Homo sapiens: one gene and its partners. The protein of the gene in region 3 purifies or fractionates together with the protein of the main gene of each other region. This does not show direct contact. Each region holds a gene or a part of one and is shown on either strand. Other genes may lie near its edges. The genes, in order: ZBTB20, LRRC41, TEAD2, HOXA10, MACROH2A2, SMARCA1 and RALY.

Region 1 (4,733 bases), on a different chromosome or scaffold from region 3:
GCATGCTGTACGTTCCAAAGAAGCCTGGGTTAAAATCCAGATGACTTAAGTCTATTGGAAATTATACATCAAATCCATGTCCTAGAAACAATGTCATTTTCAAATCCCAAGTACAGTGTATTCTTTGCATGCATGGTATTTTTGATAAAGTCTCTTATTTTGTGACAAAATATTGCTATATCAGCTGCCTAAAAAAGTGCAACTTAGTTTGGCAGTAATTATTTTTTTTTCTTTGTATAGTGAAAAGCGATTTCCCCAACCCTCCCATCTTGGCCCTTGTAAGAAATCCTTTTTAGGAATCTATCCTGGGCTTCCTGCTGGACTTCAGCCTCATTTTTTTCTCCAATGCCTGAGTACTGGACCAATATTTGGTAAGAATTTGGCTCTGGGGAGTGCTATGTTGAATGACAAATGGTTGAGGACGAAGATTTTATTGAAGCATTTGAACCACACTTAATTTTCCGTGTTGCTTTATTTGTTCCTTTTACCACCCAGGATATTGAATTCTGTGGGCTCTGGTTGAGTCGTTGGTACTTCAGGCGTTCAGTAATAAGAAACATAATCTGCTTTTTCCGGCAGGATAATAAATCTCATTTATATTAAGGGAGGCTTACTCCAAACTCTTTTACATAGTATTTTTCTAAATCTTCTGCATGAACAAATTCTTCCTTGAGCCCTAGCACTGGGGACCCGGTCTGGCAACCTGCGCCCCATTCCGCGGGAATCAAGCGTGACCCGGTGCGGCCTTGCGCGCTGCCGCCAGCCAGACCCTCCCTCCGGCTTTCCCACCCACCGCCCGGGATCCAGCCTCCATCCCGCTGCCTCAGCTGTCCAAGACAGCGACACCCCCCTCTCCGCTCCCGCGGCTCCCCCGGCGCAGCTCGCCGCGCCAGACAGCGGGTAACCGCCGCCTCCGCTGGGGCATCCCGGCTCCACAGGCCCAGCGCGCTCCAGACACCTGCCTCTCACTGGCCACCGCCGCTGCCCCTCACCCCGCAGCCCTCTCGGCAATTGGCCCCAGGCCGCCGCTCGTCATCCTCAGCCTTCTCCTAGAGTACCGCCTCCGTCGCCGGGTCATTTAAGTTTATCACAAATAAATAAATAAAGGAGGAAATAGAAATGCGTAGAAAGTAAAAGCAGTAGGGGGTGGGGGAGATGGGGCGTGGAGGAAAAGGAGGGAGGAGCGGAGGAGTAAGCAACCTAACCTGATTGCGCCTGTGTCGACCAATCATGGCTCACTCCAGTCCGGTCTGACGGGCTCCCTGAACCAATAGCCTTCCACCTCCCGGATCACTGAACAACGAGATACGATTGACCTTTTCAGAAAGGGTGAAGGTGCGGCGGGGGGAGGGGGTTGTGGGGGTGGGCGAAGTGGAAGGATTGTCCACCAATCGCCTGTTAATACTTCTCTGAGCGAAGTTTCCGCGTCCCAATGGATGTTTGAGATAGCGGATTGGGCCTCTTTTAGCCCAATCGAAGGTGACAGAGATGAGGGAAGAGGAAGAAAGGGGCGGGGACGGGGGGGCGGAGGGGAGAAGGAAGAGTGCATTTTGTTTATGGGCGGCAACCTCACGAGGGGCGTCCCATTCTCATTGGCTCACTGAAGCCAAGATTGGCGTGAGAGCTATCCTATAGCGGGGAGAGATAGAGGGTTCGCGGAGTGAAGCGTCCAATGTGGGCCTTCTGCCGAAGAAGTAGGGGCGGGGGGAAGTTTAGGAGTTGAGGAAAGAAGATTAAAGAGCGCGAGGAGGTAATGCCACAAACTCTAATTTGTTGTGGGACGGGCGGGAGAGAGGGAGGAGTGTGTGCGTGCCGAGGGGGATGAGGCGTCTGCGAGGCGCCTGGAGTGGGGGGCGGCGGGACTGGGAAGGAGGGGAGCGGGGTGGGGTTGGGGGAGCGAGTTACAGAGCGGCGAGCCAGCGGGCCCTGAGCTGGATGAGCGCGCGCGCCCCCGCGCCCCGCCCCGCCCCGCCCCGCCCGCGCCCCCTCCCCCGGCGCCCTTCTTAGCGCCCGGCGGCTGCCTCGCCCGACCCGGCGGGGAGGTGGGAGGGAGGCGCGGGAGGGTCGAAGGGTGGCGGGGCGGGCGGGACGTCCCGCAGCTGGAAACGTGTCTTCTGCCTTCTTCTCTCTACTCCCTGCGCCTGGAGCCGCTGCTTCCAAGAAGAGGAGCTGAGGGGGACTAGCCGGGGCTCAGGAGCTGCTAGAGGCGCCCGCTTGTCTTCTGCCCCCTCCCTCCTCGCCCTCCCCCGCTTGCCGTGGCTCTCGCGGTCTCTGGAGCGTCTTCAGAGAACTGGGGGGCAGGAGGTGTCCTGGCCCCACAGCCGCTGGATGTCTCTCCAGACGCCGGAGCTCCCGGCCCCCGCCTGCTTCGCTTCTACGACTAGAGAGGAGGGGGCTTGGGAAGGGAAGACACACCTTTCCTTCTTTCTCTTCTTTGGGCCACTTCGGAAACATTAAAACATGTTAACACTTTTTGATTCCTGATATAAAAATGGTTGGAAGGTTCTTGAAAGTTTAAAACAAATGCCGTCTCTCGTACACTGTTTAATGTATTCCTGTCTGTGTGGCTTTTGGGTCCTCCCCCCACCCCCCGCCCCCAGCTGTTATCCTTTTTAAGGATGCTGAAGAGGCAGGAGGCAGGGATTTTCTAAAAGTTCTATTGATAAACACACTTGCACAAACATATGCTAGGCACACACACAAACTAAACATTAGCGAAAAACACAATATGGCGTACAGCTACGGTACCTAGCGCGGTAATCCGCTGATCTCTCACTCCGAACTGGGTTGAATGAGGTCAGTAGCAGGATGACAGCTCTCCAATGAAAATCTGAATGAATCAGGAAGTAGTTTGGAAGCTTGCGGGTGTAGTACTGTCCTCAGAATCAGCATTGGCCAAACCTAAGTTGAACATGTTACCTTTCTAGACATGTGAAAATCTTCTCCACTGTTTTTTCTATTAAAAATACCAAAAGGGTGCTAAAGTCAAGTTTCCTCACTGCGTGGCGGTGTATACATTTCAGCTAAAAAAATTATAGAGGCCATTCACCCAATGTTTTCAAGTGAACGCTATTCTGAAGTTACTGTTGTAACTTGTTGCCATTGAAAGTTTTAAAACACAATTACCATTTTATAAATAAATAGCTGTAGACACTAAATTTAAGTGATAACCAGTCATCTTTAAATTTATAATGGTTTGTTTTCATTTCTGTTCATGCTCCCAATCCCAAGTACCCTTTGCTATTTTGTGGAAATATTTATATAGATCCCCCTCCACTCCCGGTCACATACAGTCAGCCCTTCCTGTGCCTGGGTTCTGCATCTGTGGATTTAACCAGCTGCAGATCAAAAATATTTTGGGTGTGGGGGAATAGATGGAATAGAATATATATAGTTTTTTTCTTGCCACAATTCCCTAAACAATACAGTGTAACAACGATTTATTAATACATGGCATTTACTTGTATTAGGTGTTATAAGTAACCTAGAGATGATTTAAAGTATGTGGGAGAATGTGATTAGGTTAAATGCAAATACTACACTATTTTATGTAAGGGACTTGAGCATCTGTGGATTTTGGTTTCCTAGAGAGGTCCCAGAACCAATCTCCCATGGATACTGAGGGTCAACTGTAAGTTTGTCCAGTCAAGATGTGGCTACTTTTTGCTTTTTTGCTTTAAAATGAAGAATCTGTATTTTTCTAGTGAAAGAAAAAAAATTACATTGATTTTCATGCCTTTGTTCTTTGTGATTCTTAGAATATATCAAAGTTGTTGCACACATAGTGCATGGTGATATCCCTGTGCCATCTTTCCAGTAGTCTCCCAGGAAAGCTTTTGAAATTGCCCTTGAGGAATTGCTGATGTAACTGTTCAGTACTCAAGGCTTAATTTTCAAGATTGGGGTTTTGATTTTTATGGAGCTCAATTTTGGAGGGCCTTAGGTTTGGGGACACATGGTGTTGAAGTAAACAGGTGAGAAGAAGAAAAGTGAGATTTCTAGAACTATATTAGCTGCTCAGTGAGTTGGGCAATTGGATATTTTTGGTTTTATGATTTCAGATTTTATAGACCAGTGGAATACAGGCCTTGTGCATATGAAGATCAGGTGACAAGTTTGCTGCCTACCAGCCTCCACAGCAATATGCCCTTTCACGGTGAGGTCCTAATTTTAACAAGCTAAAGAAAGTATCAGGTTAAAAATTGTCAAATTTTATCCATTTCCAGGAAGAAGTCTTTATGCTTACCCATCTAGGCCCGTGTTTTAAGATTACTACAAAACCAAGAAAATGCACATATAGGTCATGTGTACATTGACTAGCTACTAAAAGAAAATACGAGATTAAATGGAATACTAGAGGAAAGAGAAACTTTCATGTGAGGGCTATAATTGGGGAAGGGGGTGTTTAGAACTACCAGTTGATGTGATGCCAGTTTCTTCTATAATTGGATCAGAAAGTTTTTGAGGCCCGCAAACATCTAATTCCTCTTGTTGTCCTGTTAATAAGAATTTGACTACTTGGTATAGGAAGAAAATCTAAGGAAAAAATATTTTAAGCGAATCATTTTTGTTGCATTAGTGAAAGTTTTCAGAAGACTTTTTAGACAAATTGGACTTTCTAGTAAAAAGGCTAGTCTGAATAATTAGGTAAATTGGACTTTCTAGAAAAAAAGGCCAGTCTGAATAATTAGGTTGTTTTAGAAGGGCAATAAAAGCTACAGCTAAGTTCCTGC
Region 2 (4,079 bases), on a different chromosome or scaffold from region 3:
CCCTGACGCTCAATTGATCCTCCTGCCTCAGCCTCCCTAATAGCTGGGACTAGAGGCGCACACCAGCACCCCCAGCTAACTTTTGTATTTTTTGTAGAGACAAGGTGTCGTCATGTTGCCCAGGCTGTTCTTGAACTCCTGGGCTCAAGCAATCTGACCACCTTGGCATCCCAACGTTTTTCTGGGATTGTAGGCATGAGCCATCACACCCGGCCTGATTTGTGCTTTTACTTTTTTTTGTTTATTGGTTTTATTATTTTTGGAGACAGAGTCTCACTCTCACCCAGGCTGGAGTGCAATGGAGCGATCTAGTCTTACTGCAACCTCTGCCTCTTGGGTTCAAGTGATTCTCATGCCTCAGCCTCCCAAGGAGCTTGGATTACAGGTGTGTGCCACCACGCCCGGCTAATTTTTGTATTTTTATTTTGTTTTGTTGTTGTTGTTGTTGTTTTCTGAGTCAGAGTCTCACTATGTCACCGAGGCTGGAGTGCAGTGGTGCCATCTCGGCTCATTTTAACCTCTGCCTCCTGGGTTCAAGCAATTCTGCCTCAGCCTCCCAAGTAGTAATCCCAGAGTAGCTGGGATTACAGGCATGCACTACCATGCCTGATTTTCAGTAGAGACAGGGTTTCACCATATGCACCAGGCTGGTCTCAACTCCTGACCTCAAGTATCTGCCCACCTCAGCCTCCCAAAGTGCTGGGATTACAGGTGTGAGCCACCACACCTGCCTGTTGGTTTTATTCTTTTTTAAATTATTTTTTTCTATTCTTTGGTGTTGAAACTTTTTTGTTGTTTTTGTTTTAAGACAAGTTCTGGCTCTATTGCCCAGGCTGGAGTGCGATGGTGTGATCTCGGCTCAGTGCAACCTCTGTCTCCTGGGCTCCCTCCCACCTCAGCCTCCTGAGTAGCTGGGACTACAGGTGCACAACACCACAACAGGATAATTTTTCTATTTTTTGTAGAGACGGGGTTTCTCCATGTTGCCCAGGTTGGTCTCAAACTCGTAAGCTCAAGCAATCCACCCACCTTGGCCTCCCAAAGTGCTGGGATTACAGGTGTGAGCTACCGCGCCCAGCCCTTTCTTTCTTTTTTTAAGAGACGTGGTTTTGCACTGTCCCCCAGGCTGGAATGTAGTGGCATGATCACAGCCTCCAACTCCTAGGCTCAAGCTATTCCTCTCACTTCAGCCTCTGGAGTAGCTGGGATTATAGATGTCAGTCACTGTACCCGACTCTTGTGCCTTTACTTTTTACAACTAATTCTTTTTTTTTTTTTTTTTTTTGAGTCGGAGTCTTGCTCTGTTGCCCAGGCTGGAGTGCAGTGATGTGATCTTGGCTCACTGCAACCTCTGCCTCCTGGGTTCAAGCAATTCTCCTGCCTCAGCCTCTTGAGTAGCTGGAACTAAAGGCACGTGCCACCACGCCCAGCTAATTTTTGTATTTTCAGTAGAGACAGGGTTTCACCATGTTGGCCAGGCTGGTCTTGAACTCCTGATTTCGTGATCCACCCGCGTTGGCCTCTCAAAGTGCTGGCATTATAGGTGTGAGCCACTGTGCCCGGCCACAATTTATTGTTTATACAAAAGTCATTAGAGTATACTGTAAAGTGAGGCTCTAACTTAACTTTTTCCAAATAGCTAACCAATTGCTAGAGAATAATTTATTGGGTAAATCTTAATTTATTCATTGCTTTTTCTCCAGAGTATCTATTCTATTATACAGATCTTTTTTTATTTGTTAGTTTTTTGAGACAGGGTCTCTCTCCTGTTGCCCAGGCTGGAGTACAGTGGTGCGATCTTGGCTCACTGCAGCCTCGACTTCCCAGGCTCAGGTGATCCTCCTACCTTGGTCTCCCGAGTATCTGGGACTACAGGCATGTGCCACCATGCCCAGCCAGTTCTTTGTATTTTTAGTAGAGACAAAGTCTTGCCATGTTGCCCAGGCTGGCCTTGAGCTCCTGGGTTCAAGTGATCCACCTGCCTCAGCCTCCCAAAGTGCTAAGATTACAGGTGTGAGCCACCGTGCCTGACCTTACAGATCTCTTTATATACCCCAGTACTACACAGTTTGAAATACTATTGCTTTATAAGCATTCTATATTTATCTTGTTCACCATTGTATCCCTGGAACCTAGCATAATGCATGGAACTGAGCAGGCACTGAATAACTGTTTGTGACTTATGAGCTGAAGGCTATTGTCATGCAAAAGTGGGAAGCGGAAAGACACCCTCTGGAATGGACATGCTCCAAGTTAGGACCTCTGCCTAACTGACTGTTGGGCCACCAAGCCTGGGGCCTCTAAATGCTCTGAAATGCTTTGAGCCAAGAAGACAGAAAGCTTTCTCCAAGAGAAAAATATAATCTTTATCACTTGCTGGTCAACTCTAGTGCTTGTGAAATACTGGAACAAAGTGAATCTGATGTTTCCTTAAAGATAGCAAAAAGCAGTTACTGTTTTCTAATATTCTTGAGTCTGCTTCTCTTCCTCATAAGGTCTGTTGTCCTCATTCTGAACGCCAAGGGTTGCAGTCCAGATTTGGAAGTGAATAAGCCGAAGGAGATGGGGTTCAATGTTACTGAACCCAGTGCATCCCCAGAAATTAAATCTCCAATTCCTGACATTAGCTTTTTTTCCACCTGTTATTTGGCCTCATTCACCATAGAAGGCCCAGTTCAAATACTACTTCCTAGGAAAGACTTTCTTATTCTCTTCTCTCTCAACCTTCTTACTATCCTCTATTACACCACTTATCCTATCATATGTGATCTATTTGTAGATTTCCCTATTAAACTGGTAGGTCCTTGCCGGGCGAGGTGGCTCACGCCTGTAATCCCAGCACTTTTGGAGGCCGAGGTGGGTGGATCAACTGAGGTCAGGAGTTCGAGACCAGCCTGACCAACATGGAGAAACCCTGTCTCTATTAAAAATACAAAAAAATTAGCTGGGTGTGGTGGCGCATGCCTGTAATCCCAGCTACTTGGGAGGCTGAGGCAGGAGAATTGCTTGAACCCGGGAGGCAGAGGTTGCAGTGAGCCAAGATTGCGCCATTGCACTCCGGCGTGGACAACAAGGGCAAAACTCCGTCTCAAACAAAACAAAACAAAACAAAACAAAACAAAACTGTTAGGTCTTTAAGATTAGAGGCTGCATCTATTCTTCCAATATCTAGTGTAAGATCTGGTACCTGGTTAAGTTTCAGTAAATGTTTATTGAATTAAATCTACCCCATCACCTAGTTATGGGGCAGCAAAAGAAACTGCTTAAATGAGAGCTCCAGTGATTTATATCTGTATCAGTGAATAATAGAATCTCAGGTCTAAAAGGAGCTCTAAAAGTCATCTTGTGCAACCCCTTTTACAATGCTGAATCCCCTGCAGAACACCCTAGTGTCAAGGAGTTACACAGACTCCATTTGAACTTAGTGATGGGAAGTTTATTACCTCTAGAATTAGCTTGTTTCATAAGCTCAGGGTTTAAGCTTTACGTAAACTTCAGGTTAGCAAAAATGTATCTTCCATTAGCTTCCATCCAGAACAAGTCTATTAATCCCTCCTTCATGTGACAGCCATTCATATATTTCAAGATGGGTCATGTTTCCCAAGTCTTCTCTTTTTCAGGAAAAACATCTCCAGTTGTCCCAATGTGACTCACATAATGTGGCTTTGACTTTCTCCAATCTCCACGGGTAGCCTGACCATTGCAGAGCTAGGCAGGACTGTTGTCCACCTTGTCCTTCAGCCTATACTATATTTACATTAGTTCACACAGCTCAAGGTATAGTCGTTATAAGTGGCTTCAACACATTGTTGACTAAACTCCCTTAATCTTTTTTATACAAGCTGTTACTAATCATACTCCTTTATCCCTCATCCCGATACCATGCAATTGGAACTTTTAAAACTCATTGAAGTATTGGTGTATTCTATTAAATTTCATTTTGTTAGATTTGACCACTGCACCAACACCATCAAGAACTCTAGGAATCCTGGCTCTGCCATCCATTGTGATCACTAACTTTCCCTGTTTTGTGTCCCCTGCAAATACAGTGAGCAAGCAATTCAGTGACAAATGCCAAA
Region 3 (3,240 bases):
GGCCTCCCAAAGTGCTGGGATTACAAGTGTGAGCCACAGTGCCTGGCCTGGGCTCAATAAATGTTGCCTGGATGTTTAGGGGGTGCTAGTTCTTATAGTAACAAAGGTGGTGGAGGGATCTAGTCTCTGAGAAGAAAGCCTGGCTAGGTGTGGTGGTTCACTCCTATCTTCCCAGCACTTTGGGAAGCTGAGGCGAGAGTTTCGCTTGTGTTCAAGAGTTTGACACCAGCCTGGGCAACACAGTGAGACCTCAACTCTACAAAAAATGAAAAAAATTAGCTGGGTGTGGTGGTGCGCACCTGTGGTCCTAGCTTCTGTGGAGGCTGAGGCAGGAGGATCACTTAAGCCTGGGAGGTGGAGGCTGCAGTGAGCCAAGATTGTGCCACTGCCCTCCAGCCTGGGTGACAGAATGAGACCCTGCCGAAAGAAAGAAAGGAAGAAAGGAAGAAGGAAAGAAAGGAAAGAAAAGAAAGAAGGAAAGAAAGAAGGAAGGAAGGAAGGAAAGGAAGGAAAGGCCTGCTGAGGGCCTGAACTTTACTGTTCTTGCTGGGAGTGTTGTTGTTCTGGAGCTTGCTGTTCACGGTTCTGGAGCTTTCTGCCATGTGAAGCAGAAGCCTGAAACTGCTCTGGGGATGTGCAGCTGAGGGCTTAGACATTGTTGGGGCTTAAGACAGGCCTTATCAGGTCCCAGGACTGGAGAGCCACCCCCTTAGGAAGCCCAGCTGCTGAAGGGGTTCAGAGGAGCAGCTGGTAAGGTCTTTGGTTTTGCCACGGTGAGAGATGGAGTCGGGCCCCTGAGAAGACGGACCTGGCACAGTGTTAGCAACTAAAGTTAGGAAGAGGAAGAGGTGCGCCTCGCAAGGAGGTGACTCAGACCAAAGGTGTGATGAGCTCTTAGGCTTCCTTAGGCCCCACTTGGCCTAGTGACACTTGGCCAGCTGTCTACACACACTTGGCCACTGGGGTCATGGAGGGAGTCTGACCTCTCAGATTTGGCCGAGGGGGAAGTGCTCTGAGGAGGAGTCAGGCCTCCTCAGGCTCCGTGAGGTCCCGTTGCTAGGGAGTAGCCACTTGCCTTAGCAACCAGAGTGAGAGGGGCTTAGAGGGAGGTATTCATCTTGAACTGGTTGCTAAGAAGTAACTGCCATAGTAACCAGGCCCTTGGAAGGGGCTGAACTCTTGAGTTGCGGGCTTCAAGGGAAAAAGGTTGAATTGGCTGGACACAGTGGCTCATGCCTGTAATCTCAGCACTTTGGGAGGCCTAGGTGGGTGGATCACCTGAGTTCAGGAGTTTGAGACCAACCTGGCCAACATGACAAAACCCTGTCTCTACTAAAAATACAAAAATTAGCCAGACATGGTGGCGTGCGCCTGTAATCCCAGCCACTTGGGAGGCTGAGGCAGGAGAATCGCTTGAACCCGGGAGGCAGAGGTTGCAGTGAGTCAAGATCGCGGCATTGCACTGGGCAACAAGAGCGAGACTTCATCTCAGAAAAAAAAAAAAGAAAAGAAAAAAGGTTGAAATTGAATTCCAGGGCTCCTTTGGTTACTGGGGAGACAGGGCCAAGACTGTTTTGGGGACCCAGACTTCTTCAACGCTGATGGACGGTGGATCTTCTCCAGAAACCAGCCCTTGGAGAACTTTGAAAGCCTGACGCGGTGGCTCATGCCTGTAATCCCAGCACTTTCGGAGGCCAAGGTGGGAGGATCGCTTGAGCCCAGGAGTTGGAGACCAGCCTGGGCAACATGGTGAAACCCTGTTTCTACAAAAAATACAAAATATTAGCTGGATGTGGTGGCATGCACCTGTGGTCCTAGCTACTCAGGAGGCTGAGATGGGAGGATCACTTGAGCTCAGGAGGTCGAGGCTGCAGTGAGCTGTGATTGTACCACCACACATTGCCTGGGTGACGGAGCAAGACCCTGTTCCCCCCCCCCCAAAAAAAAAGACAAACAAACAACAAAAAAACAAAACAACACTGAAGAATCAAGCCGGGAACTGCAGGGGTAATGGTAGGCTATGGGGCAGAGTCCCCACTGTGTTTTTTTTTTTTTTAAGATGGAGTTTCGCTCTCGTTGCTCAGGCTGGAGTGCAATGGTATGATCTCGGCTCACCGCAACCTCTGCCTCCCGGGTTCAAGTGATTCTCCTGCGTCAGTGTCCCAGTAGCTGGGATTACAAGCATGCACCACCACGCCCGGCTAATTTTGTATTTTTAGTAGAGATGGGGTTTCTCCATGTTGGTCAGGCTGGTCTTGAACTCCCAACCTCAGGTGATCCGCCCGCCTCGGCCTCCCAAAGTACTGGGATTACAGGTGTGAACCACTGCGCCTGGTAGTCCCCACTGTTTATAAGGGATGTCCCCTCTGACTCATCTGTGCCTTCCCATCTCCCAGGCGGACCTGAACTGGGGCCCAAGTGGTGAGGAGGCAGGGGCCGGTGGCAGCATCAGCAGTGGTGGCTTCTACGGAGTGAGCAGCCAGTATGAGAGCCTGGAACACATGACCCTCACCTGTTCCTCCAAGGTCTGCTCTTTTGGCAAGCAGGTGGTGGAGAAGGTGGAGGTGAGGCTGGAGGGGTGGAGCTCTGGGTCAGCACTTGGGGGTGCAGAATGGACCAGAAGCCATCATGACTCAGGCATTTGGGAGTATGCATGGAGGGAGTGGGTCCCAGCCTCTTTGAGGGTTTAATGCATGCGTTGGGAGCTAATGGGCAGTTCAGAAGTCACAGGCAGGGATCATTCTGCGGGCTGACAGGTAATGTGTAGTATAGAGACTTAGAGTCACTGAGATTGAGAAGGGTCTTATGGATATGGAGAGGTTCTTAGGGCAAGAAGGTTCAGAAGTCACACTTACAGTTGCTGGAGACTTGGGGAAGTCTCAAGTTTAGAAGTCAGAGTTTGAAGACGTCATGGAGGGGTCTTTGGAGGGTATCTGAGGGCTGGGAGGTTAGAGGAGTCCAGAGGTCTTTGGGGGTTCAGAGAATCACTTTGAGGGGCTTGTGATTTGCAGGCTCAGAGATCCTGATTCGGATCTCCGAGGGTTCAGGCCCAGTCTCCAGTCACTGTGGGTGGGGTGATGAAAGGAAGGTGGCAGTGAGAGTGAGTGTGGTGGCATCTTAGAGGCACAGGGTGGAGCTCAATTCCTGGGGTGACCCGTGGGTCTCTCAGCCACCATTTTCCCAACTCCCTTCCCCTTGGTTCAGACGGAACGGGCCCAGCTGGAGGACGGCAGATTTGTG
Region 4 (4,830 bases), on a different chromosome or scaffold from region 3:
GAAAGAAAAAAGAAACCCAGGGGCCTGTATCCCCTGATTAAACACAGCACAGCACTCCAGGCAGACATGCCCGGTGGCGGCTCCTTTGCACCATTGACCTCAGGCCAGACACCTCAGCGCCAACAATGGGACCTCGGCCTTCCGGCTAGGTTTGCCCCAGGCTGGGCAGGAAACCAGCTCGGCCGAAGACAGGGGCCATTTCGAGCAGTGGGACCCCAAGACAGCAAACCCAGCCCAGTCAGGACTTGACACTTAGGACAATATCTATCTCTATAGAATTTTAGCATGATATGGCTTTTTCCCCCAGAAAACAACAAATAAACCAGCACCAAGCAAACACAAAGAAACAAAAAGTCAGAACAAACCAGCCCTGCACAGATGTAACGGCCCAGGAGATGGCGAGTGTGGGAGGGAGGAACAGGGCTCCAGCACAGGTGCGAGTTCCTGGGCAGAGCCTGAAGACAGAGGGAGGGGACCAGCGCTCGGGAAGTGAAAAAACCGCGTCGCCTGGAGATTCATCAGGAAAAATTAAAGTTGGCTGTGAGCTCCCGGATCCGGTTTTCTCGATTCATTTTCTTCAGTTTCATCCTGCGGTTCTGAAACCAGATTTTCACTTGTCTGTCCGTGAGGTGGACGCTGCGGCTAATCTCTAGGCGCCGCTCTCGAGTAAGGTACATATTGAACAGAAACTCCTTCTCCAGCTCCAGTGTCTGGTGCTTCGTGTAGGGGCAGCGCTTCTTCCGACCACTCTTTGCCGTGAGCCAGTTGGCTGCGTTTTCACCTTTGGAATTGCCTGGCATGTAAGAGAATAAAGAGGGGATGATTAAGTCGAGGCCACACGGGCTGCCCGCGGGGGTGAATTGCCTCCGTTTCTCCCATAAGAGAGATGTCCCAAGTCACAGAGAAGAGAGTCGTGCCCCCGTTTTTGGCTTGCTGAGAGCAAGCAGTTCCTCCAAAAGTCATGACAAAAATTGAGTGGGCCTTCAATCTACATGACCCTTCCAATTTACATTTCCCCCACTTTTCCAAACACCTGTTTTAGCGCTAAGCCGTAGATGCTTGCAGAAGGAAAGGCCTGGGAGGGCAGGCTGTACATCTTGAACTTAACGCTTTTCTTTGCCTCTTGCCATATGGCAGACAAGCATTTCCTGTAGCCCCCAGGCTAGGAGCGCGGGGTGCTTACTTGGAAGATGGGCCAGGCAGCTTGGCTGTCTCACCCCAGGGCCCTGATTGCCCAAGACTCGATAAGGGGAGAAAGAAGGGCATCATTGGTCCAATGGGGAAGGCAGGAAAAACCGATTCGGGGGTCAAGGGCCCTCCCTCAAGTTTCTCCAGGAGCCAGGGATAGATAGCTGGGCGATTCCGAGGTCCAGGGGAAGGGAAATGGCCCTTCTCTGGCTCTCAGCTCAGGGCCCCCCGCTTCCAGGCCGGATTTGCCTTTTCTTCTTCCCGCAACGAAGATTCCCGCCCCTCAGCAACTTTGAAAAAAGCATGGGGGATCGTAAACTCGAACTTCGCCGGTTAATGGGCTTATTTATTGGCGCTGGCGGCTGCTTATTTTGGATGCCTTACAAACATCCGCGCTATCTGCGGGCGAGCTACTTTCCCTCCCTCCCCCTCCCCCCGCGTGGGCCGCGCCGCGCAGGCTGGGCAGGGACCAGGGCTCTGGGTCCTCCCGGCCACAGGAAAGAGCGCACAGGAGGGGGCCTGCTCGCTGGTGTCCTCGTCCCTAGTCAGGGGGAGCTGAGGCCAGCGCCGAGGACGTCTTGCTGTGGGGCGCTAAGCCGGACATGAATTTTACTGCGTCCCCACGCCCAAATATTAAAAAGCAAGTTCACAAGGTCAGCCTGCCTGCAGCTTGGGCCAAGGCCGGCCGGCTGCTGCGCGGGCTCCTAGTTTTCTGATCCTTCTCCTCCTTGTGTCTGCCTGTCTGCCCGCCTGACTGCAGCCCTCTGCAGCCCTGCTTACCCAGGGAATCCTTCTCCGGCGAGGCTTTGCTGCTCTCGGAAGGGGCCGGGGAGAGCTCCTCCGCGGCCGAGGACGACGCGTGCGCCTCCTCGTCGCCCTGCGAGCCCCCGCCGCTGCCGCAAGCCAGCGTGGGGGGCGGCGGCGAATCGAGGGCTCGCTCCTTCCGGGCCGCATCGGCCGAGCCGGAGGCTAGCGCGGGCGGGAGATCGAAACCGCGCCCCGGGGGCTGCGCGGGGAACGGGCCAGCCCCGAGTTGCTGCGCGCCGCCGCCGCCGCTGCCATAGCCCTTGGCGGTGCCGTAGGCCTGAGAAAGGCGGAAGTAGCCAGGCACTGGCACCCCGCTGGAGGTGCCCAGGGCGCAGCCGTCGGGCGGCGGGCCCCGCGGGAAGGGAGCCAGTTCGGCGGCGGTGGCCGAGACTTTGGGGCATTTGTCCGCCGAGTCGTAGAGGCAGTAGGAGCTCTCTTCTTTGATGTTCTGCGCGAAAGAGCACGAGGTGGCCTGCGGCGCTGGCTGGGGTGGTTGCGGCGGGGGCGGCGGCTGCTGCTGGGGCGGCGGCGGCGGCCCGTCAGGCGGCTCCATCCGGCAAGACCGGGGCGCGTCTAGCCACAGGTCTATGGGCGAGGGCCCGTAGCCGTGCGCCCCGGGACCTAGACCCCCGCCACCGCCACCGCTGCCCGGCGACGCTGCCTCATTGCGCTTGCCGCCCAGCGTGGGGAAGAGCCCGCAGCTCTGCAGCCCGTAGGGCAGGTCGGCGGCGGGCGGCAGGTAGACCCCGCCGTGGGCGTAGTAACCGCCACCGCCGCCGCCCCCCGCGCCACCACCACCGCCGCCTGCCTCGCCTCTGCCCGAGCTGATGAGCGAGTCGACCAAAAAAGAGTTCGCGGCGGGGCTCTCCGAGCATGACATTGTTGTGGGATAATTTGGCGAAGGGAGCAGATAGCCCTTTCTGGCTGACATTTCTTGTGCAAAACATGCTGAATACGATTAGCAATCCCCCCGCACCGCGGCGGGCGCCCGCAGCCAATCCCGAGCCAGAGTTTCCGCGCGACCACTCCCAGTTTGGTTTCGTAGGCGCGGGGCCGCTCTCCGAGGGCGCCCTCAGAGCCCGCGATTGATATAAATATGTAATCTGTATTGATGGGCCAGGAGACGCACCCCGACACCTTGGCCCGAAGGCCGGGAGCTGTGGGGGCTGCCCCAACGTGGCTGGTGGGGGGCCTGGCCATTGGGCTCGCCCCGCCCCTACCCGGACGTGAGCCCCATACCGGGGTCCCTTAGAAGGGCCCTTGGGCCCCGCGCAGTTAACAAGTGGGGTGTTTATGGTGCGCGCCCAGTCTGCCTTGGGTGCTCACCATCCCTGTCGCAGAAGCTGCCACTAGTCCCCGGTGTACTCTAACCACTGAAGCGGCCGTGTCGGGGACTCACGCGCTTCCCATTCAGCTCTGGATCTGGAACTGGCCCCTTGTCTGAATTCTGCCTCCTCAAAAGTGGCGAACCTGGCCCTATGGCCGTCAGGATCCTCAGAGTGTCAGGAGCCCAGAGTGAACTAGAAGCTGACTTGCCTCTACTTCCAGTATCCACAGATTTTTCCCCAAAATGCAGTGGTTGTTCCCTAGCCCCTAACCCCCAACACTTTTCTCCCCTAGTCCGTTGATCCAGTTAGGATCTTCTCCTCTGGTGTTGTGCTCACCCGGCTTGCCTTCTCTACAACTCCTGTCAGTGGACTTTGGTGGGCTGGCGGGACTGGGGGTGGGAAGCGGCTGCCAGCCTTGATGGAAAGACGGCCCCACTCCCACTCCCAAGGCCAGAGCCAGATCCAAGCATCCCCTCATCACCTAGGGAAGACTCTAAGCCCACAGTCATTTCGGGGAAGTAAAATGCTGGCCTTGGGGTCCTTGGCTGGCCCAAAGTGAGAGACTTGGAGGGGTGTGCCCGGTGTACACCTCCGCTGCTTTATGTTCCTGCTCTCCTGTTAGCTTTGGCACTCATATGCTCCTGGAGGCTACAACAAGAACCAGTGTCACTACACTCCTACCTCTCTGTCCCCTCCCCTCTTCCCCTCCCTCCCATACCCTCAGCTAGGGCAGTCCTTGCTCCTGCAGTGTGTGCATTTTAACGAGGCCTCGGTGAGGAAATCCTTTCCCTGCAAGGCCGGGCTGGGCTCATGGTCCTGTTATAAGAGCATGTGGAGGTCAGGCCCTTTGCTCAGCAGGCTCAGGGGCTCTGTTTTAGCCAACTGGAAATGGCCGGCCTGGGGTGCTAGCCCCCAAGTGTGAGCCTCATGCTAGTCTCAGGAAATGCAACCTTTTCCGGCCAGATCCAGTGGAGCCCGGGAGGTCGCTGCCTTGCCCCTGGCCCGTGGGCTACAGGTCTCCAGGATACTCTAGGCCTGCCCGCCCCTCCGGCCCCAGTCGGAGCTGGCATTACTGAACGCCGGCATCCCAGGAAATAGACCGCTCAGGCCGCTGCCTTCAGCTGGGAAAGACTCTTGCATCCGGGTCATACGCGGCACTTTGCCTCCTTCCTCCCAGTGTGAATCCAGCCCAAGGTGGAAGAGGAGCCTGAGAGGACCCTGAAAGCGCAGAGAGAGCTGGCTAGGTAGAGCTCCAGCTCTGGCTTCTGAGATTCAAGCAGCTGCGGTCGCTGCGGGCAGTGGCTGCTCCGAGCTCCGGGCCCAGAAGGCCGCTCCACCGCTAGCGCGGCGCTCCAGCCACTTCAACCTCGGCGCCCCACGGTGACCCGGCCGTAAGGACTGAGCATCAGGGTGCGGAGGAGGAGGATGGAGAGAAAAAGAGAGAGATAGAAGGAGAGACGGACAGAGGGAGAGAAAAGAGAGAGAAACAGGAGGGGAGAGAGAATAA
Region 5 (4,079 bases), on a different chromosome or scaffold from region 3:
AGATTTGCAGCCAGATCCAGTGCAGCTCAAAACCTGAGGCAGAGAAGAGAGTGAGACATAGCCTTAGTTTGGTAGTGTCCCCAGGTGACATAGAAGGAAATGTAATTTCTTTCTGGAAGAACTCAGCTCCAGGCTGACAGCAGTTCTAAGATGCTTCCTGATTTCAACAATATTAAAATATTTAAACAAAAAAAAAGTGCATCTTAACATGGTTAAAACAGACCAACTGCAGTGCAGGCCCACCCTGTGGCAGGGGGTCGGGGAGGGTGGATCAAGAAAATATTTCAGGTGCAGAGTCAGTGAGAGGCAGCGATGCTGCATGTTCAGGGAGGCAGAAGCTGGAGCTAAGGTAAGTCCAGGGTTTCCAGGGCTGAGCAAACTGATGAAAAGTCAGGACTTTCATTCATTTGTTGAATATTGGAGCACCTGCCTGCCAGTGACTGTGGCAGGAGCCAGGCAGCAGCAAGGAATACAAAAGTGCTTCAGTGAAGATGTCAGCTGGGGCAGAACCAGTTCACGTTAAGCATCTACGGTGTGTGCTGTCGGGCGCAGGCATCAGGATGTGGATGTGATTGTAGGCCCTGAACACTCCTGAATTTTACAACCAGGCGGGGACCCCAGGGTAACACAGTACATCACTTAGCACAGCTGGCTGCTGAATTGCATGGCAGAGGCCCGGAGAGAATGGGCGAGGGAGTCAGGGACAAAGGAGGATAGCCAAGTGTGGAGACAGAGGTGCAGCCAGACCCATGTGTGCAGGGGACTGAGCCCACTGGCTGGAGGACGACTGGGCATCCAGAAAGAGCAAGAAATGGATAGACTCCAAGGGGAGAGGGGCCGACCATGAAGGGAGCCTGGGAGGACTGCAGTAAGGCCAGGGGGCAATCAGGAGCAGTTGCAGATTCTGAGTTTAAATGTGGAGTTTAAGGACCTTGGCTCCAGCAACCGTGTGGAGGATGGTTTGGCAGACAGAGGGCTGGGGCCCGAAGACCATCAAGAAAGCTGTATTGGATGAGGGTGGGGGTGGAGTGGGGGTGAAAATGAAGCACATGGGCCTGAAATGAGACAAGGCAGAGGAAACTGATGGTGTCTGCAGTGACAAAGAGGGAAAAAGGGGAATCGGGTTTCAGGAGTGAATGGCCATTTTACTGGGCACGTGTTAGCCCTGGGGCCCCAGAAAGGTCATGAGGTGCAGGTCCCTGTTGAAAGCTAAGGAGGAAAATGGCTTGCAGATGGCTGCTTAGGAGGTGGGGCTGCAGCAGAGAGAAGAGCACTGGGCCCAGACACGCAGGAAGAAGAGAGGCCATTGTGGGAAACTGAGGTGCTGTTAAAAGAAAACCCACAGTGTCACGGAAACCAGGCATCAGCAGTAGCAGCCTCTCAGCAGGACAAGGGGCCAACCTAGAGTCCCCTTTTGCTGTGGTGACTCCCAAGAACTGTGATGGCTCACCTGGGGGAAGGTTCTAGAAGCTCCCAGCAGCAGCACTGCCACCCTCAGAATGCAGGTCTTCACCAGGCAACATCACATTAGGTAAGAGAATGCCCCTAGTCATTATGTGGATAGGTGCTTATACCAAATACCAGGGTCACAGCCCTTGCAATAACTTGACCCTCATCCTTGACAACTCTGGAGAACATTACAAAGCATTATGGCTACAAGCTGTGTTATTCATTTCCAGTTGCCATGAACATACTTTGTTTTGGACTGAAATGTCATCGTGCACTACCCTGAAAGTCATTTTTTACTTGATTGGATGTTTGACATTGCCAATAGGAACATATTCCTTTTATTTAAAAATGACTTTTGGCTGGGTGCAGTATAATCCTAGCACTTTGGGAGGCCGAGGTGGGTGGATCACTTGAGGTCAGGAGTTCAAGACCAACCTGGCCAACATGGTGAAACCCCATCTCTACTAAAAATACAAAAAATTAGCCGGGCATGGTGGCGGGTGCCTGTAATCCCAGCCACTTGGGAAGCTGAGGCAGGAGAATCGAATCGCTTGAACCCGAGAGGCAGAGGTTGCAGTGAGCTGTGATCGAGCCACTGCACTCCAGCCTGGGCAACAGAGGGGCATCCTGTCTCAAAAAAAAAAAAAAAAAAAAGACTTTACATTAGAGGAATACCATTCTGCTAGTAACATGATTATACTTTTAAAATATATGAAATAAATCAGCCATGACTGTAACAAGCCAAACTCTGTCCGGCATACAATAGCAGCCAGGTGCTCGGGAAGATGGCACCATGCAGGCAAGGCCCATCTCCAGGGTCCTTGGTTCTCAGCAGAGCAGCCTCCAGTTTTAGGGGCATCATTGTTCAGTCCAAAGAGGGACACTCTGCTTCTGGTGCACAAATATACGTGGTCGTAGAGTCAGCACGCATGGCGGGCCCCTACCCAGGGCCTCGGTGTATTGTGTGGCCTGGGTCCTGCACTCAGGCGTTCACGTGTGATGACACTGAGCCCCGTCTAGGCACTGGAAGGCAGGGAGCCTACAGCCTCCCCTGATGGACGAAGGGGTCCCTTGGATTTGGCTTCTACCCATGTGAGGAAGTGCAGTCAGCACTTCCCTGACACTGTGGACATTGCCAGGAAATACTTATATAAACTAGGTGGGCATCATAGATTTCCAGTCAGTCTTTCACCTCAACCCCACACACAGCTCTGGAATACGGCGGACACACGTTTCTGTTACAAGTGCTGCCCCTAGTGGCCACGGACCCTTGCTACGCCGATTCCTGGGTTCCTGGAGGGGCACAGGGCGCAGACGGGCAGCGTGGGGGCAAGCATGGCTCATGGCTGAAGCTGCAGCTGCCTCAGGCAGATCCGAGGGAACTGCTCCCCTGGGGAGTCCCACAGGGACTTCCCTCGAGCTTAGCAGCCACGGGGCTTTATCAACTCTGTCACCAATGGGAACCACATTTAGGGGAGTAAACAGTAAAACAAAGGAGTATGACAGAAATTGTGAGACAAGGCTGGCCTAATTCAGTTTCACAGCCCGCTTTTGAAACCCCACTCTCTGCAGGGCATGTGGAGATCATCAAATGGCAGTCCCTGTCAAGGAACTACACAATCAAGTTCAGTGGTTCTCAACTCATAGAAGGTCCTAAAATCACATAAGCATAAGCCCCTGCACCAGACCTACTGAGTCAGGACCTCTGGGTGGTCAGTACCCTGACTCTGTGGGGCCCAGGCACAGCTATTTTTTAAAAGCCACAGTAGGCCAGGTGTGATGGCTCACGCCTGTAATCCCAGCACTTTGGGTGCCTGAGGCAAGAGGATCACTTGAGCCCTGGAGTTCAAGACCAGTCTGGGCAACATAGCAAAACCTCATCTCTATAAAAAAATTTTAAAAATTAGCACATGCCTGTAATCCCAGCTACTCGAGAGGCTGAGGCACTAGAATCACTTGAACCCAGGAGGTGGAGGTTGCAGCGAGCTGAGATCGCACCACTGCACTCCAGCCTGGGCGACAGAAAAAGACTCTGTCTCAAAAAAAAACTAAAAATAAAAAAATAAAAATAAAAGCCACTGTATTCATTTCCTGTGGCTACTGTAACAAATTACCACAAAGTTCGTGGCTTCAGACAACACAAATTTGTCTTCTTACAGTTCTGGAGGCCAGAAGTCCACAATGAGTTTTAAGAGTCTAAGATCCAGGTGTTGGCAGGGCTGGTTCCTTCTGGAGGCTCAGGGAAGGATCCCTTCCTTGCCTTTTCCAGCTTCTAAGCTGCAACATTCCTTGGCTCCTGGCTGCATCGTTCCAATCTCTGTCTCCTTCATCCCACGGCCTTCTCCTGCCTTTGACCTTCTTGCCTCCCTCTTATCAGGTCCCAGGCTCACCCAGACAGTCCAGGATCATCTCCCCATCTCAAGAGCCTTCACTTAATCACATCTGCAAAGTCCTTTTTGCCATGTACGGGAACACCCACAGGTTTCAGGGAGGAGGACGTGGATGTTTTGGGATGCCATTACTTTACCTGCCACAGCCACCAGAGAGGATCTGATGTGTCCCTTTAACTAGGAACCATTGTGAGGAGGTAGCCCAACCCAGGGACTACTTGGCAGACCATATGAAAATGG
Region 6 (4,079 bases), on a different chromosome or scaffold from region 3:
TTGTATGAGATCTTTATATAGTAAGAATATTCATATTAATTTTAACATTCTTTACTAAATATCCCTGGATTGTCATCCTGATTTTCTTCATTACTTACCTGCTTGTTCCTTGTTACCATACTGATAGAAATCTTCTTACTTTCCCCTTTATCCGTTGCCCTCATTCCCATTTGTAAACCATTTTCTCTGTTGGTTGATCTTCTAAACTAATCATTCATAAGCTAATGGAAATGAAGTTGAGATTTCTGATATTTTACCTCCTAGATATATTTCAGCTCTCACTCAAAACGTTTTCATTATTATTGTTTTTAAATAATGTAAATGAATTATTACTTGCTTAGTTAAATTTGTGTATGTAATTGTTCTAAATTTGTATCTATCGATGTAAGCTTTTAAAGATTAGGAACTTCATTTATATAATATACTTTCTACAGAAATTCACACAGTACAGTATATGTATAGATGCTTACATATTTTTGAAGATGGAAGAATATTATAAAGTATATTTATAAGGAATATTATAAAGTGTGTGAAGATTTTCTATATGTATTTTAAATGTTTTTATTTGTTTCTTAAGGACCCTGATGGTCTAATTTTATTTTTCTCTTTTTCTTCTATCCCTTTATCAATAAAAAATAAAGGAAGCAATAGAGGCTTTTAATGCTCCTAATAGTAGCAAATTCATCTTTATGCTAAGTACCAGGGCTGGAGGTCTCGGAATTAACCTGGCAAGTGCTGATGTGGTTATACTATATGATTCAGACTGGAACCCACAGGTTGATCTACAAGCTATGGTTAGTAATCTTTAATGGTGTCAGAAATTTATCATAGCTCTGAATACTATTGCTATTTACACACATAAAGGTCATTTATGATAAAAAGGTAACAATTTTTGAGAGATTTTATAGAAGTTACAGTAGATTATCCTGGAAAACACAGTTGCTATGCTAATTGCAAAAACAAAAGAAATGAAAGCGAACAACAAACACACCCCAGATCCAACTTATAGCATTTATGTGTTGATTTTGGTTTTTTTCATGAAATAGAAATGTCAGTTTTTTCCCATTCCTACAGATTGAAGAGGACACATAAATTTGTTTTAATGAAAAGGATTAAAAAACAATCTCTTGTTATTATTCTGTTCAACAACTAAATATATTAAAATCCTTAGTACTGAAATTAAGAGAGGTAGGATTTTAACTTTCATAAAAAACAATTTGGGAGAGAAGGCAAAAAGGTAAGAAAGGAATATATTCCAGAAAAACACTTGCTACTTAATAATGATACCATGCAAAAGCTATTCTACACTTAAAAACATTTTTTTTTAGGGAGCAAAGTTTCTCTGACCTTTCATCATGACACTACAGGTAACCCCTTTGATATTTTGGTGTCATTTATTGAACTAGAGCTACAACTTCTCTCAATGTGACTCACATTTTCAGATAAAGAAATATAATTTAGAAGTAAAAAGATGCAAAATAACTTCTTAGGTTTTGAATATATAGCTATGGATAAGTGTCTTTTTGGGAGCAATGAAAAGTCATATGCCAATGAGGTATAACTTAGAAGGCTTTCCTTTTATAATAGAGAATTGAAAGGGATTGACCACTGGGACATTCCAAAATCAATATGCTTTGGCGTAATTATTATTGCATTACGATGGTATTGAACTACCTGTTTGATATGACTAACTAGGAGTAAGCCCCAGTAAGTTACAGTGTTACTGAACTGGAAAATCTAATAGTGATAGCACTTCATTTCCGTAGAAGTCTTAGTGTGCATCCCATCTTTCAGGATTTGCTGGTTCAGGTTTAATGTAAATATGTGCAGGGGATTGCATTCTGTTTGAAAAATGTGCTGTGTTGAAACTTTGTTACTAGGCTCTAGTGTTTTTATATTTAGTACAAGGCCTGTTTTGAACTTACATTTTTTTTTTCTCTACCACCCTCCTCCCTTTACCTATTTGCTCTAGCAGCTTCTGTGTTTTAAAAATACTCTCCCTAGATGGTTTTATACCACTAGAAGTTCGCCACCTGTCACCTGTACCAACTATAAACCATAGGACCAGTCCTAGGCTACTGAATAGTAAGGATAGTAATATCCCATTAATTTTTATAACTCTTTACTGCATATCCCTCAGTAAGCAGAAAGAAGTGCCTGATGATGAAATAAAGCAGACTTTTGCCACCATAGCAACCCTAACTACTTAATAAAATTCCTTGCTAGTTTCGAAGATGTTTATATTTAGTGGCTTAAAGTTACTTAGTAACTCAATCCAGAAACTTTCAGCTCCCTCTTTTATTCATCTTACAGGTGCTTTGCCCTTTGTCCTGGAAGTTTCCCATTAATGGTACAATATAATATTTGCAGATTTCTTTGTTCCCAGTGGTCTTTAGATATTCTCAATATTCATCATGCTCTTTTCCAAAGTGTCAGATCTAGAGAAAAATAACTAATTTTATTTTTAGAATTTTATAGCATATGATGGCTCTAAATTTTATCCAGAATATCCAATATCTTACATTAGAACTCTTTCTACTAGGATCGAGCACATCGTATTGGTCAGAAGAAACCAGTACGTGTATTCCGTCTCATCACTGACAACACTGTTGAAGAGAGGATTGTAGAAAGAGCTGAGATAAAACTGAGACTCGATTCAATTGTTATACAACAAGGTATTTATACATAGAAACTTAATTAGGTGTTTTTTGTAAAACACATGTAGTTTTCTTCAAAGGAGATTACTTTTAATAAAAGTTGACCAAAATTTGAAAACTTAGAGGAAAAATTGAAACATCACTGTGTATCCCATGAGTCTGTACAATTGTTATGTATCACCTAAAAATAAAAGGAAAAAATTTAAAAATGCTAATTGAGGCTGGGTGAGGTAGGTCATGCCTGTAATCCCAGCACTTTGGGAGGCCGAGGCGGGTGGATCACCTGAGATCAGGAGTTTGAGACCAGCCTGGCCAACATGGTGAATCCCTGTCTCTACTAAAAATACAAAAAATTAGCCGGGTGTGGTGGCGTGCACCAGTAGTCCCAGCTACTCAGGAGGCTGAGGCAGGAGAATTGCTTGAACCTGGGAGGTGGAGGTTGCAGTGAGCCGAGATCGCGCCACTGCACTCCGCCTTGGGCGACAGAGCAAGACACTGTCTCAAAAACAAACAAACAAACAAACAAACGAACAAAAAATGCTAATTGAAATCTTCTGAATTGAAACCCTGGCATTTGATATATGGAGTAGTTGAACATCACTAGCTTATTCTTGAATGTCAGTAGCATGCTTTTTGAAGTACCTGAGATTATTTAGCAGATAAAATGGCTACTTTTAAATTTTTGAAAACATATTAGAGGGTACCTTTTCATATAGAGAAGTTTGATCTGAAAACAGAGTTTGAACATGAAAAAAAGTTTCTGTCCTTCTGGGTTTTAACTGAGTTTTACAGAAGGGAATTTATATAGAAATAGAAAGTATGCTAGAAGAAAAACTTGTAGGGTTTATTAAACAAATAACCTTAATGCTCACTAATTTTTTGTTCTTTAAAGCTTTATGTGTGGTTAAATGTGATAATGTCTGATTAGAATGATTATGCCTTCTTTGGAATATGATTGATTGAATATGTACAATTTCAATTTTTATCATTAGGAAGACTCATTGACCAACAGTCTAACAAGCTGGCAAAAGAGGAAATGTTACAAATGATACGGCATGGAGCCACCCATGTTTTTGCTTCTAAAGAGAGTGAGTTGACAGATGAAGACATTACAACTATTCTGGAAAGAGGGGAAAAGAAGGTTAGTTAAAATAGCATTTTATTTTCATGCTGGATTGTTTTAATATCAACATACTTCAGCATACTTATATTTTCATTGTACATGTTTATCTGCATTATCTACATGTTTCAGGTAGCTCATATTCTCTCCAACAACTTGTAGATCTATTTCCAGGGGTAGATTAAGGCTTTAAAACTTTTTTTTGGTGAGAAAGACTAAGAACCAGAGTTTAAAATTGAGTGACCTTATATCTAATGCTTTATTGAAAATACTATATCTAAAAGCCAAGTAAATTTTGTGTT
Region 7 (4,079 bases), on a different chromosome or scaffold from region 3:
GTTTGGCTTAGAGATGAGACTGCACCTACCCTTTGCTCTCTATATTCTGGCCAGGTCTTTTACCCCAAAGGGCTGTACAAATTTTTCCCGTACAGTTTACGGCTGGGCATAGGCTCCAAGAGGAAAGGGGAAAGGAGAGAAGCTCAATTTCAGTAGGAAAAGCCTCAAGTTAAGCCTTGGCAGTTCCCGGCCCAGTCTTCTGCTCATTGGTACAGGTTGATGCCACTCCCTTTTGGAACCCTCCTATCTCAGTAACCTAACCTTAAGGCCATTTCAGGTGATAAAAGACTCCAAATAGCATATATAAAAACTTTCATCAGTCTGCCAACCTATTTACCTAATATTTTGGGGGGACTTCTTTTCAGTGAACTGGAAAAGATACATCTGTATCTCTTATCCCACTAGGGGATAAGAGACTCTTTTTCTCTTAAATCCTCCCAGCCTGGAAGCTGGCACGTTCTGACCAGCAGGTGGTACTGTTTACAAGGGAATCATAGGCTGGACGTGAGCCCAACTTGGGAAGAAACTGCTCCCAGGGTTAGGCTTAAAGTGAACCCAATGGATATACTAGAGTCAGCAGTGCATTATCTCAGATAAAGGAAAGGGGCTGAGAGGGTCCCATCACTGCTACTGATGAAGGGGCTGGTGCCAGCTTTGGAACTGACTTGGAAAGAGACAGACTCTTGTTACTCAGTTTGCCTTTGGTTCCACTCATCTACACTTATCAGGCAGTGAGGGACACAAAGGTAGTAACACACTGTGCATACGAGGCAGGAAATGCTCAATACATGTTTTTCCCATGGGCTTGCCATTCCTCACAGTTCTCGCTGACAGTCCCTCTCCTACATGGATGACAAGCCATTCAAGGGTTAATTCCTTGTCTATCCACGGGTATACAAGAAGTTAATAGGGCCCCTGTGTGGGCATCAGATGATTCTCTCCTAGGTGGTTCAGCTCAAAGTGCTATAGTTTTGGCCTAGGGAGAAGCCACCTGCTTTGGCTAGAGGGAGTCAACCAAGCCTGGGGTGTGGATAGAGATACAAAGAGTGACCTCTACTGGGAGCCACAAGCACCACTGAGCAGGAAGCATTTGCTGAACAGCTGTTCGTGGTATTGTGACGAGATCAGGACTCACCTTGACTGGTGAGCCAAGTTTTTAAGGTTTGGCCCTGCCAGTCTTTTCTCTCATTCCTTGGGGTTTGGAATGATGTACATAAAAGGACTTTGCAAACCCTAAAGCCCTTCACAAGATCTTGTAATTACACTGGCTTGCACCTCTTTATTCCAATACTGCCATCTGCGAACCCCATTCTAGATGAGGGTAAAGGTCACAGTGGAACACATTCTGTATAATGCCAAGGAGGGGCAGCCAGAAGCCATGGCATATGAAGATCAGTTTTCTGATCTGTAGAGGAGAGACTTGGGAAGTGTATGTATGTGGTTGCAAATGCTGCTCTGGGTGAGAAATCTGCAGTTAAAAGGAGAAATGCTCACCTATGGCATGCGCTAGGTACCCAACCTCTTGAGCTCCTCGTCTAAACAGCCCCCTATCCACTTTCATGCCCTGTACACTCCTTTGGAAAGTGGGATGTGCTACAGTTGTGTGGACTCCCTCAGCCCAAGGAGACAGGTATCTGTGGGGGTGTGCAAAGGCTTGAGTGACCACACACATGTTGATGAGGCTCCTCTAAGTGAGGGATAGAGGTGGGAAAGGGAATGAAAAGGAGGTAGAGCCAGGCTAGGTCTCCCTGAACTGCCAGGTTCAAGTACAGAATCCTAATGAGTCCAAGAATTCTAAATTAAGACATGGTATTCCAGGTTGTTGGGAACATCACAATTTATTAGCTTCATTCAGAACCTTCAAATGTTTAAACATATGGTACATGGGTCTCTATTTGTACTCTTATTACTCTGCCCTGCAAATGTTATAGGGCAGGCCTGACAAAACTCGGGGCACAGTAAGTGTTCAATCAATGTTAGGGAGGGAGTGGTTAAACATATGTCCCAGGAGGTGGTCAGAAGGTCTAGCTGTGGGCTGCCTTAAGTGGTTAGGACCACTAGGGCAGAGGTCCCAGATACCATTTTCTAATCTTTCAACCAAACACCCACTTCCACAGACCAACTCAATCCCTCCCACCCAATTCTTCCTATGCTTTTCAAGGTACCCCCTAGCTTAGAGTGGCAGCCCTAGAAAATATTGACATCCATTCAGCAGGAGCTACTTCACTTGGTAAGCTATTTCCTGCCCTGGGCCAAGCTCTGCCTCACAGATTAGCTGTGTAATTGAGAGCAAGGTGTCTGCAGCCCCCAGGGGTCCTAGGTTTAGCAATGAGCTGAGGAGAGGTGGGTAGAAGGATTGTTCTTGGTGGCTGGGGGAAAGGAGAGAAGCAAATTTATTCCTAGAGACTTCTGCAATGTCAGATGAGCAGAGACCTGTGTGCACATGGAGCTTATAAATGCTCTTACTCGGAAGAACAGAAGAGAAGTTTTACCCACAGTAAAAACTTGGCCAGGATGCTACAGCTAGTGAGTAGCAGAGACAAGATTACCCCATGGGTCTTCTGACGCTAAGTCTAGGGTCCTTATATTCCATTTTTCATTTGGGGCTGGTAAGAGACAGGCCCCCAGGACACTGAGGAGCTGGGAGAGAGCACAGTGTCTCAAAAAAAAAAAAAAAAGAAAAAAGAAAAAAGCTACGTTTGAGAAAACTGGGGACTGGCTCCCCAATAAGTGCCTTCACCTTTACCTGCAGGAGAAACAATTGCTGCATAAAAGCTGGGCCTTTTAAGCTAATTAAAATCCACTAGTGAAACAGGCTTTGAAATGCAATTTACGGCTCAAAGGGATGGGCCTGCTTCTCCAGGCTAGTAAGAGTAGAAGAAATGTGGCAAAAACAAATTCAACAAAAAACAAGCCTGAACATGGAGAAAAGTGGCAGGGGTTTGCAAAGGTAGAAAAGCCCTAAAAGGTACCTCTGATCTTTGGGTAAATGAGACACCCAGAGAGCCGTCACAGTAACAACAGCCACTGGCTGGGCACAGTGGCTCACGCCCATAATCCCAGCACTTTGGGAGGCCAAGGCAGGTGGATCACTTGAGGTTAGGAGTTCAGGACCAGCCTAGCTAACATGGTGAAACCCCGTCTCTACTTTAAAAAAAAAAAAATTAGCCGGGCATGGTGGCAGATGTCTGTAATCCCAGCTACTTGGGAGGCTGAGGCAGGAGAACTGTTTGATCACCGCCACTGCACTCCAGCCTAGGCGACAGAGCGAGACTTTCCGTCAAAAAAAGAAAAAAAGAAAAGGACGGCCACTAATTACTGAATGCTGCACAGTATTACAGTATTTAACCCTCACAACAGCCCTGTGAGGAGGTGTTTGACATAGGGAAACTGAGATAGGTTCAGAGAAGCAAGGTAACTGGTTAATAGAGCAAAGCCAGAACTGGAATCAGGACCTCAAAAACAGGCACCTGCAGGGGCAAGATTGCACATGGCACAGGGATGCCTTGGGTTCTGACTTCCCTGGCAAGATTATGTTACCTTGAGTCAGCCACACACGCTCTCCTTGGTCCTCACCCTTTCCCTTTTCTACTACAATTCCTCACAGTTGTACAGAATTTTAGTGAACAAAGCCAGTTTATATCTCTTATGGTATGAATGTGCCTCCTCCACCAAATCTGTGTGTTGAAACCTAATCCCTAATGTGATGGTATTAGGAAGTGGGGCTTTGGGAGTGATGAGGTCCCAAAGGGAAGGGAAAGACCTCAAGAATGAGTTTAATACCTTTAAAAAAAAAAAGAGCCCCAGGCCAGGAAGTGGCTCACGCAAGTAATCCCAGCACTTTGGGAAGCCAAGATGGGAGGATCCTTTGAGGCCTGGAGTTGGAGACCAGCCTAGGCTACATCATGAGACCCCATCTCTACAAAATAAACAAATAAGAGGCCCAGAGAGCTACTTTGTGTCTTCTATCATGTGCGAACACAGTGAAAAGATGGTTGTCCATGAAACTGTAAGAGGGCTCTCACCAGACATCTGTTGCCCAGGCTGGAGTACAATGGCACGATCTTGGCTCACTGCAA

What was found.
Region 1: the proteins of TEAD2 (region 3) and ZBTB20 purify together in Homo sapiens (affinity purification with mass spectrometry; one large-scale study listed by BioGRID and IntAct). This does not show direct contact.
Region 2: the proteins of TEAD2 (region 3) and LRRC41 purify together in Homo sapiens (affinity purification with mass spectrometry; one large-scale study listed by BioGRID and IntAct). This does not show direct contact.
Region 4: the proteins of TEAD2 (region 3) and HOXA10 purify together in Homo sapiens (affinity purification with mass spectrometry, with the first as the bait; one large-scale study listed by BioGRID). This does not show direct contact.
Region 5: the proteins of TEAD2 (region 3) and MACROH2A2 purify together in Homo sapiens (affinity purification with mass spectrometry; one large-scale study listed by BioGRID and IntAct). This does not show direct contact.
Region 6: the proteins of TEAD2 (region 3) and SMARCA1 purify together in Homo sapiens (affinity purification with mass spectrometry; one large-scale study listed by BioGRID and IntAct). This does not show direct contact.
Region 7: the proteins of TEAD2 (region 3) and RALY purify together in Homo sapiens (affinity purification with mass spectrometry; one large-scale study listed by BioGRID and IntAct). This does not show direct contact.

The regions. Positions count from the first base shown.
Region 1 is NC_000003.12:115,144,236-115,148,968, reverse strand, and holds the start of ZBTB20 (zinc finger and BTB domain-containing protein 20), read left to right. Parts: upstream 1-1,680; 5' UTR 1,681-1,750; intron 1,751-4,061; exon of another isoform or gene 4,062-4,156; intron 4,157-4,733. UniProt on the Homo sapiens protein: May be a transcription factor that may be involved in hematopoiesis, oncogenesis, and immune responses. Plays a role in postnatal myogenesis, may be involved in the regulation of satellite cells self-renewal.
Region 2 is NC_000001.11:46,293,328-46,297,406, forward strand, and holds part of LRRC41 (leucine-rich repeat-containing protein 41), read right to left. Parts: intron 1-4,079. UniProt on the Homo sapiens protein: Probable substrate recognition component of an ECS (Elongin BC-CUL2/5-SOCS-box protein) E3 ubiquitin ligase complex which mediates the ubiquitination and subsequent proteasomal degradation of target proteins.
Region 3 is NC_000019.10:49,342,555-49,345,794, reverse strand, and holds part of TEAD2 (transcriptional enhancer factor TEF-4), read left to right. Parts: intron 1-2,396; coding exon 2,397-2,564; intron 2,565-3,204; coding exon 3,205-3,240. UniProt on the Homo sapiens protein: Transcription factor which plays a key role in the Hippo signaling pathway, a pathway involved in organ size control and tumor suppression by restricting proliferation and promoting apoptosis.
Region 4 is NC_000007.14:27,171,381-27,176,210, forward strand, and holds the start of HOXA10 (homeobox protein Hox-A10), read right to left. Parts: upstream 2,941-4,830; 5' UTR 2,927-2,940; coding exon 1,969-2,926; intron 794-1,968; coding exon 519-793; 3' UTR 1-518. UniProt on the Homo sapiens protein: Sequence-specific transcription factor which is part of a developmental regulatory system that provides cells with specific positional identities on the anterior-posterior axis. Binds to the DNA sequence 5'-AA[AT]TTTTATTAC-3'.
Region 5 is NC_000010.11:70,104,720-70,108,798, forward strand, and holds part of MACROH2A2 (core histone macro-H2A.2), read left to right. Parts: intron 1-4,079. UniProt on the Homo sapiens protein: Variant histone H2A which replaces conventional H2A in a subset of nucleosomes where it represses transcription. Nucleosomes wrap and compact DNA into chromatin, limiting DNA accessibility to the cellular machineries which require DNA as a template.
Region 6 is NC_000023.11:129,488,656-129,492,734, reverse strand, and holds part of SMARCA1 (SWI/SNF-related matrix-associated actin-dependent regulator of chromatin subfamily A member 1), read left to right. Parts: intron 1-641; coding exon 642-794; intron 795-2,542; coding exon 2,543-2,675; intron 2,676-3,649; coding exon 3,650-3,798; intron 3,799-4,079.
Region 7 is NC_000020.11:34,066,416-34,070,494, reverse strand, and holds part of RALY (RNA-binding protein Raly), read right to left. Parts: intron 1-4,079. UniProt on the Homo sapiens protein: RNA-binding protein that acts as a transcriptional cofactor for cholesterol biosynthetic genes in the liver. Binds the lipid-responsive non-coding RNA LeXis and is required for LeXis-mediated effect on cholesterogenesis.